Regions from separate parts of the Homo sapiens genome. Here regions 1 and 3 are each linked to region 2. Evidence: fine-mapped expression QTL. A gene starts in region 2. Each other region holds a variant in brackets. All regions are shown on one strand. Distances are between the middles of the regions. Region 1 overlaps GNA14 (G protein subunit alpha 14). Region 2 holds the start of PSAT1 (phosphoserine aminotransferase 1). Region 3 has its middle 55 kb from the start of PSAT1.

What was found. PIP is the estimated chance that this variant, and not a neighbour inherited with it, causes the effect.
Region 1: its variant is fine-mapped to the expression of PSAT1 in rectum (CEDAR, PIP 0.95).
Region 3: its variant is fine-mapped to the expression of PSAT1 in T cells (TOPMed, PIP above 0.99). The same link has a PIP of 0.9 or more in CD4 T cells, blood mononuclear cells, memory regulatory T cells, naive CD4 T cells, naive CD8 T cells and whole blood.

What each region holds. Positions count from the first base shown.
Region 1 is chr9:77,564,983-77,567,747 of GRCh38, forward strand. All of the region lies in intron 1 of GNA14 (G protein subunit alpha 14), which reads right to left. Among named protein-coding and RNA genes, the nearest start is that of GNA14, 82 kb to the right of the region's middle. The variant C/CT (reference allele first, on the strand shown) is at 1,163.
Region 2 is chr9:78,295,602-78,298,366 of GRCh38, forward strand. It overlaps PSAT1 (phosphoserine aminotransferase 1), which reads left to right and starts at 1,524. Exons shown (of 9, transcript NM_058179.4): 1 at 1,524-1,669. The coding sequence starts at 1,610. RefSeq lists enhancers at 610-879, 770-1,353, 1,354-1,937 and a silencer at 1,890-2,129.
Region 3 is chr9:78,350,598-78,353,362 of GRCh38, forward strand. No RefSeq gene overlaps it. Among named protein-coding and RNA genes, the nearest start is that of PSAT1, 55 kb to the left of the region's middle. RefSeq lists an enhancer at 1-175. The variant C/T (reference allele first, on the strand shown) is at 1,403.

The sequences.
Region 1 (2,765 bases), 730 kb before region 2:
AAATACAAATACATTTCATTTTTCAAAATAATTTTAACATGTTTCCTACTGTGCATATTGTTCTGCTGCTGTTTTCACTTAACAGTATGCCTCTGAGTGCTTTCCATGTTGTAGTTCTCTGTTTTATTACTTTCAACTACTATATGGCATTTGTATACATGTAGTACTTGAAAGTATTTCTTCTGAATCAAAGTATTTCTTTTAAAATGCCATTCCTGTAAATCTCTGCTGTCCAGTATAGTAGCCACCAGCTAAACGTGGTTACTGAGTATTTGAATGAGACTGGTATGAATTGAGATGTGCCAGAGTGTAAAATACAGACCAGATTTTGAAAACTTAATACTAGGGGGAAAATAATGTAAAATGCCTTATTAATAATGTTTTATATTGATTACATGTTGAAGCAATAATATGTTTCATATATTGGGTCAAATAAAATATATTTAAATCAATTTCACCTGTTTCTTTTTACCTTTTTTTAAACTTTATTTTTGAGACAGAGTCTCACTCTGTTGCCCAGTCTGGAGTGCAGTGGCACAATCTCGGCTCACTGCAACCTCTGCCTCCTGGGTTCAAGTGATTCTTGTGCCTCAGCCTCCCAAGTAGCTGGGATTACAGGCATGCGCCGCCATGCCTGCCTAATTTTTGCATTCTTAGTAGAGATGGGATTTCACTATGTTGGCCAGGCTGGTCTCAAACTCCCTGCCTCGAGTGATCCTTCTGCCTTGGCCTCTCAAAGTGCTGGGATTAGAGGCGTGAGCCACCGTGCCCAGCACTTTTTACTTTTTAAATGCAACGATTAGAAAATATGAAATTACTGATGTGGCTAACATTGTATTTCTATTGAATGAGTCTGCTCCAAATAATGGGCATTTAGGCTTCTTACAGTTCATCTGAAATCAGAAGAAAAAAAGTGCCACAGTGGACACTACTATACATCAGTTGTTCTCAATGGGATGCTATCTGGCAAAGAAACACTCTGGCCACAACTTAGAGGGGTAACTGGCACTGAGTGGAGGCCAGGGTTGCTGTTAAACATCTGGCAATGCACAGGACAGTCTCTCAAAGCAAAGAACTGGCTGGCCCCAAATATCACCGGTGCTGAGGTTGAGGTTGAGAAACCCAGTTAAGCATAAATCCTTGTCCACAAGTGGGAGTGCTT[C/CT]TTTTTTTTTTTTTTTTTTTTTTTTTCTGAGACAGGGTCTCACTCTGTCACCCAGACTGGAGTGTGGTGGTGCAGTCTTGGCTCACTGCAACCTCTGCCTCCCAGGTTCAGGCAATTCTTGAGCCTCAGCCTCCTGAGTAGCTGGGATTACAGGCGTGTGCCACCATGCCTGGCTAATTTTTGTATTTTTAGTAGAAACAGGGTCTCGCCATGTTGGTCAAGCTGGTCTCAAACCCCTGGCCTCAAGTGATCTGCCCGCCTCAGCCTCCCAAAGTGCAGGGATTATAGGCGTGAGCCACTGCACCCAACCAGGAGTGCTTCTTAAAGGTAGATCTTAAGTCATGGAATTGCCTGTGCTTTTGAAATGTTCATACACAACACCAAACTGCCCTTCAGAGTGGATATGCCAGTGTTGTCTCCCATCAACAGGACAAGAGAATATTCAAATTAATCTTTAAAGAACAAATAAATAAATCCAGCTAGAAGAGTTTGAAAGGCTTCAATATGTCCACTAAATATTATAAGTTTGTACAACCACCAACAGGAATGACAATACAACTCTAAGTCCTAGAGTTTTAAGTAATATTTGGAAGTTTTAATCTACCCTCACCCTTTTATGAAATGTCTTTTATGATCCCAGAACATAACTCACTTTGGGTCCTGGAATTGTTAATTTATAAACTAACTGACCAGTATATCTCTCTGCTTTTCAACTGTGGCCAAAATTTGAATCTCAGGAGAGTGAACTTCAATAGTCTCAAATGCTACGCTAATTAAAAATAATAATAATTATTTGTATTTGCCATATACCCAGGGCCCCAAAGCTCTATTTTCCCAAAAATACTGCCCTTGGAATAACCTTCATGTGTACTAACTGATAACACAAGTCATGTGCCTGGGCCCAGTATCTGTTCTCAAACATACTGCATATTTATTATTTAGAGATGATCCTGCCAAACAAATCAGCAAGTAGAAATACATTATATATCTAAATCTGTTATGCAAATCCAGAGGTACACTTAATATAAAATGTATTGCTCCCATATATTTACATTTTACCTAGTCTTTAGGAAGCAAGATTATTGACCTACTCCAATTTTCAATTTCCATGTTCACAAAAATGCAAATTTTCACTAACATGATTCATGTTCCAAGGTTTTTTAATGACATATCAATATAAGATACTCTACAGCCATAACCTCTTTAGGTAAATTCTAACCCTTATCAGTCTCCTCTGCTGTGAACTTCCAATAAAGAACTAACTTTAACTATCATCCTGGAGTGAATTTGAATCCTGAATTCATTCTCAGTATGCAGTATAGCAGGCAAAATAAGATGAGAGCTACAAATAATTACAGTTAATTCTAACTAGTCACCATTTTCTTCCACAAGTTTTAAAAAAAATGCTTGTGGGGCAGTTTTCCAGGGTAAAGATATTCCGGCTGGGTGTGGTGGCTCACGCCTGTAATCCCAGCACTTTGGGAGGCCGAGGTGGATGGATCACCTGAGGTCAGGAGTTCAAGACCAGCCTGGCCAACATGGCAAAACCCCGTCTCTACTAAAAATTCAAAAATTAGCCAGGCGTGGTGGTGCACGCCTGTAG
Region 2 (2,765 bases):
AGCCCTGGTGTTAGGAACTAACTCCAGGAAGGATGAAGGCTGACTCCCTTAGTCTCCAGTAGATAAGCTGCTAGGGGCAGCTACTAATATATAATAACTGAGTTATTTACGTAAAATAATGGATATGTGATGCTTCTTGCATGCCTGAGTTTCTGGGCTGAGATTTATTCTGTCTTGAATGTCGCGGTTTTCTTAATGAAGTTGCTGAGGAACGCAGGGGCCTTGTTCATTTTGCCTTTTTCTGGAAACTTTGTCCTCCAATTCCCAGATCCAGAGCAGTGCCTCTGCTCTCAGCCCCATACCGCCCACATTCTCATTAGGAAAAGCAAACAAAAGCCAAAGTCCTGTCCAGTTACAAGCCTTCTCTAAACGGGGCAGTTGGACTGTATATATTCCTGGCGCATCAATTTTACTCAGACAGGGAAAATATTTTTACATTAAAAGAAACTAGGTTAAATTATGGTAGAGAATGCAAAATTCACAGTTTAAAAATGATGAAATTCCAGACTTCAAAGGAACTTCTTTCTTGCAGGGTAGGGGGAGGGTATTCTGTTTCAGAACCCCATGCGGGTCTCCACTGGAGTTCTTTTGAGAAGGACACTTCTGTGGAAAAGTTTGAGCAGCTCTGGCCCTGCGCCTGGCCTGGCTAGGGGCCACCTTCTTCTGGTTTGGGCTGCAGCGCCCTATGGGTATCGCGTTCTTGTTAATATCTCCTCACGTTTCTAAACTCACAGCTTGTCAGCGCGGGCGCAACCTGAGAGCTGTCGCAGGTTTCCAGCTCACTCGTTTCCCAAAGGAGGAAATGGAGAATCAGCGACTTTAAAGGACTTGCCTGGCGGGCATCCACGCTTCCCAGGCTATCGCTCCTCCCTGCGTCCTTGGCCACCTCCGTTCTTTAATCCTGCAGGAACTCAGGACCCACGTGCAAATACAAAGAACCGTATCCACCCACCCCCGGCCCTTCTTCATCCTGCGCTTCCAACCTTGGGGGGGTCCTCTCTCTCCACTGGGGTATCTGACGCCCGTGGGGGGTGCTTAGAAAAGTTTGGTAGATTAGTGACTGGTGGTTCTGGAACAAATACATCACAGCCCAAACTGGGGGCTGGTGGTGGAGAGGTGGGTGGATGGGGGCTACAAATCTGCTCGGCAACTGCCCTTTCAGCCAAGAGAGAGGAGCTGAGGTCCTCTGGGGTTGGAGGACTGGAACCGGCCAGATTGCGGGCTCAAGGGGCGAAGGCAGGTTGGCAGGGGCAGCCTCTTCCCGCCGCCCACAATCCTCGGGCGGGCGCGCAGCCGAGCCGGCTCGGCTGGCTGGCGCAATCTCGCGCGCTCCTTGCATTGATCAAAAATGGGGGTTGAAACAGTAAACGCGAGGAGGAGCAACTGCTTCGACTCGGCTCAGAAGCGCGACCAATGGGGATGTGAGCTCCTTCGCGCGAACCAATTAGCGCAGGGCCTGCGACAGCACGGGCCAATGGGGCGCCGACTCGGCGCAGGAACAAGGCGGGGGTTCGGGGCCGGCTGCAGACTCTCACCGCAGCGGCCAGGAACGCCAGCCGTTCACGCGTTCGGTCCTCCTTGGCTGACTCACCGCCCTGGCCGCCGCACCATGGACGCCCCCAGGCAGGTGGTCAACTTTGGGCCTGGTCCCGCCAAGCTGCCGCACTCAGTAAGTCCCCGCGAGCGGGCGCCGGGAGTGAGGTTCAGGCGGGAGCACGCACGCGGGTGGGTTTGCATCCCTGCGTGTGGCAGTCGGATTCCCGCTCCCTGCCTTGAGTCCCCTAGGCGCTTTGCATCAGCGTGCACAGCGGGATCAGCAGCTCCGGCAAGCGGGCTTCGGGAAGAATGCAGTTGGTGAGGAAGCTCGGCGAGGCGTGCCCGTGCAGCTGCCCCTGGCCCTGACTGCTGGTGCGAGGCAGTGCACGACTCAGCTGGCCGGGGCCTGCTGTCCCGCCGGTGCCACGCACCTGCAGACGCCCGGGCTGTGCCATCTCCTGGGCCGGTCCGGGGGCTGGGGCGGGGCGAAAAAGAAAAAGCTCTGATCTCTGCCTTCGCCTCGCGCAGCTGTGCGGCGAGCCCGGGCAGTGTGGAGCGGATGCATGAATGGACATAGTGTGAATGAGTGATGAACGGGAATGAACCGATGACAGGTTTTGCATATGCAGTGGATCACGTTAGCTGAAAGGGATTGCAAACTTAAAGGTCCGCGTGTGCGTGCCCCCCTACGCCTTACACCAGTGTTTGCTTTAGCCAGCACTTAGGAACACTGCTTTTCAGAAATGTAAATTTGAAAACCTTCAGTCCAGCTTTCCCCTCCTTGTCCCCCATAGAACCTACCCTTTCCTAAAGCCTTTCTCCCCACCCCCCTCCTTTTTTTAACCTGCTTGTCCCCTAAAGGCGTTCGAGTATTCTAACTCTGGTAGACTTTGGGCTGCTTAACCCAATTCCCTGTTCATTTCGTTCTGGAGTAAACCGAGTGATTGAATTCTCTCCCGGGCCACAATCAGATCTTGCTGGTGGAACTCACTCTCTGCCTTCCCAGGCCCCAGCCCGGCTCCTCCCCTCCCCCGCCAAACCCACCGTCCCCAGCCCCACCCGCAGTGAAGAAGGCAAAGTCTCCGATGTGCCTTGAGCCCATTGTCAGGCGGCTGCCGCCGCCGTTAGATTTTTATTTTTCTAACCAGGATAGAGCTGATAATATGTTGGAGCAGCATGAGGCATAGCCAAGTATTTTACAATTATCAATTGTTGAGCAGAGTAGAAAT
Region 3 (2,765 bases), 55 kb after region 2:
CTGTTGCATTCTATTGGCCAAAGCAAGTCAGAGTCAACCCAGATTCACAGGATGGGGAAACAGACTCCACCTCTTGATGGGAGAAGCTGTAAAGTCACATTGCTAAGGGGGAGGATATAAGGAGGAGACTAGTTGGAACCATTTTTGCAATTTTGGAAGATAACTGCTATCTTATTCAAGGAGGTTACACAACCTCTCACTTTTCAAACATCCCAGATTTCTATAAATCTCCATCTCTGGCTTGGTGGCCCCTAAGAATTCTCAATCCATTTTGGTGAGGGGACATTTAGTGATGAGTGTTGTCTTGCTACATGAGTAGTTCTATTATTGGCATTCCCTTGCTACTCATCCATTATTTATAATGCTTTCCTGTATGTATGTGCAATTATATTTCTGTGTATATTTTGAGAAATAAATTGCACTGGTCCCTTTTCTTTCTCACCCCCTAGAGATGTTATAGAGACAGTAAAAGTGTCCAAATTTGTGAGAAATTGGAATAATCAAGCATTACCTGGATGGAATGCTATTAATGATAGCGATTCACGCTAGAGTCCCTTTCATCTGAGACACTCAGGATCTGTTAAGAGATTAAAAGTACTAAAAGACACCGATCTAGAGAATTTTCATTATCTTGTGCTCTGAAAACTCAGAAGTTCATTGGTTTGAATGGGCCCGAAAATACATTTTTATTACTAGGGGCATAGAAGCCTCTAGCAGCATTCTTAATAAAGCAAGGTGAGTTATAAGCAATCCTTGGATGAAGGGTAAATGTACCACACTCCATTTTAAGAAAAATACAATATAAAAGCCTTAGCATGGAAGAAAATCTTTATATGATCTTTTAAGAAAACTCAAGAAAAATAGAGACATGACACAATATTAAATTTAAAGCCAGGGACTTAGAAGCAAAGAAAAGCAAAGACAGTCTGATTAAGGTTGTTGCATTGTTCTGGCATTTTTTATGTCTCTGCCGTTTCTCTGGCCTTTTTAGATCATAAGCTTTTAGGGCACATGGAACAACTCCATCTTGATATAGTACTGAGCAAACGCACCAAGAGGTTCTCAATAAATGGGCATTAAATCCTAAGTCCAGAAGGGACCTTGAGATGCCCTCTGTTCACTCCCTACTACACCTGGTGGTACTGTGTTTTAAGCAACCCAGAAAAACAGATTCCTTTTTCTTTAAGTCTCCAAATTCAGAGACTCCACAATATGAATTCATTTCTCACCTTTGCCTTGTGCTCTTTTTTAATGTCAGTTTTTTTATTGTGGTAAAAAACACATAACAAACTTTACCATCGTAACTATTTTTAAGTGTCTAGAATGGTAGGGTTAACTATACACACAGTGCTGTACTACAGATCTCTAGAACTTTTTCATCTTGCTAAACTGAAACTCTACG[C/T]CCATTGAACAACCACCATCCTTCTTCCTTCCCTCCCAACCCCTGACAACCACCACCTTACTTCCTGTTTCTAAGAGTTTGACTGTGTTAGGTACTTCATATGCAGTATTTGTTTTTTTATGATCTGCTTATTTCACTTAGCAAAATGTCCTCAAGATTCATCCATGTTGTTGCATGTGATAGAATTTTCTTCCTTTTAAAGGCAAAATAATATTCCATTGTATGTATAGACCCCATTTTGTTTATCCATTCATCCATCAATAATATTTGGGTTGCTTCCACATCTTGGCTATTATGAATAATGCTGCTGTGAACATGGGTGTACCATGTCTCTTCAAAACCCTGTTTTTAACTGTTTTGGATATATTCCAGAAGTGGGATTTTTGGATCATATAGTAATTCTATTTTTAATTTTCCTAGGAATGTTCATACTGTTTTCTATATCAATTGCACCATTTTACATTCCCACTAATAGTTCACAAGGGTTCCAGTTTTTGTGCATCCTCTCCAACACCTGTTGTTTTCTGTTTCTTTTTTTTTTTTTGTAGTGGTTTTACTAATTGGTGTAAAGTTATATCTCATTGTGGTTTACCTTTGCATTTCCTGGATTGTTAGGGATATTTAGCATTTTTTCATATGCTTGCTGTTCATTTGTATATTTTATTTGGAAAAATATCTATGTAAGTTGTTTGTTCATTGTTAAATTGTTTTTTTTTTTTAATTTTTATTTTTGAGACAGAGTTTCATTCTTGTTGCTCAGGCTGGAGTGCAGTGGCATGATCTTAGCTCACTGCAACCTCCACCTCCCAGGTTCAAGCAATTCTCCTGCCTCAGCCTCCCGAGTAGCTGGGATTACAGGCATGTGCCACCACATGCCCACCTAAGTTTTCTATTTTCAGTAGAGATGGGGTTTCACCATGTTGGCCAGGCTAGTCTCGAACTCCTGACCTCAGGTGATCCACCTGCCTCGGCCTCCCAAAGTGTTGAGATTACAGGCGTGAACCACCACACCCAGCCAGGTTATTTTTGTTGTTGTTGCTCAGTTATAGTTTAAATAATCTGGATATTAATTCAGTTATTTACCATATTATATGGTCTGCAAATATTTCTTACCATTTTGTACTGCCTTTTTGCTGTTTATTTTGATGGGCAGAAATGTTAAAGTTTATGTAATCACATTTATCTATTTTGTTTTTGTTGCCTGTGCTTTTGGTGTTGTATACAAAAAATTATGCCAAACCAAATCCAATGTCATGAATCCTTTCCCCTATGTTTTCTTCTAGAAGTTTTATAGTTTCACATCTTATACTTAGGACTTTAATTTTTTTTTTTTGAGACGGAATCTCACTCTGTCGCCCAGGCT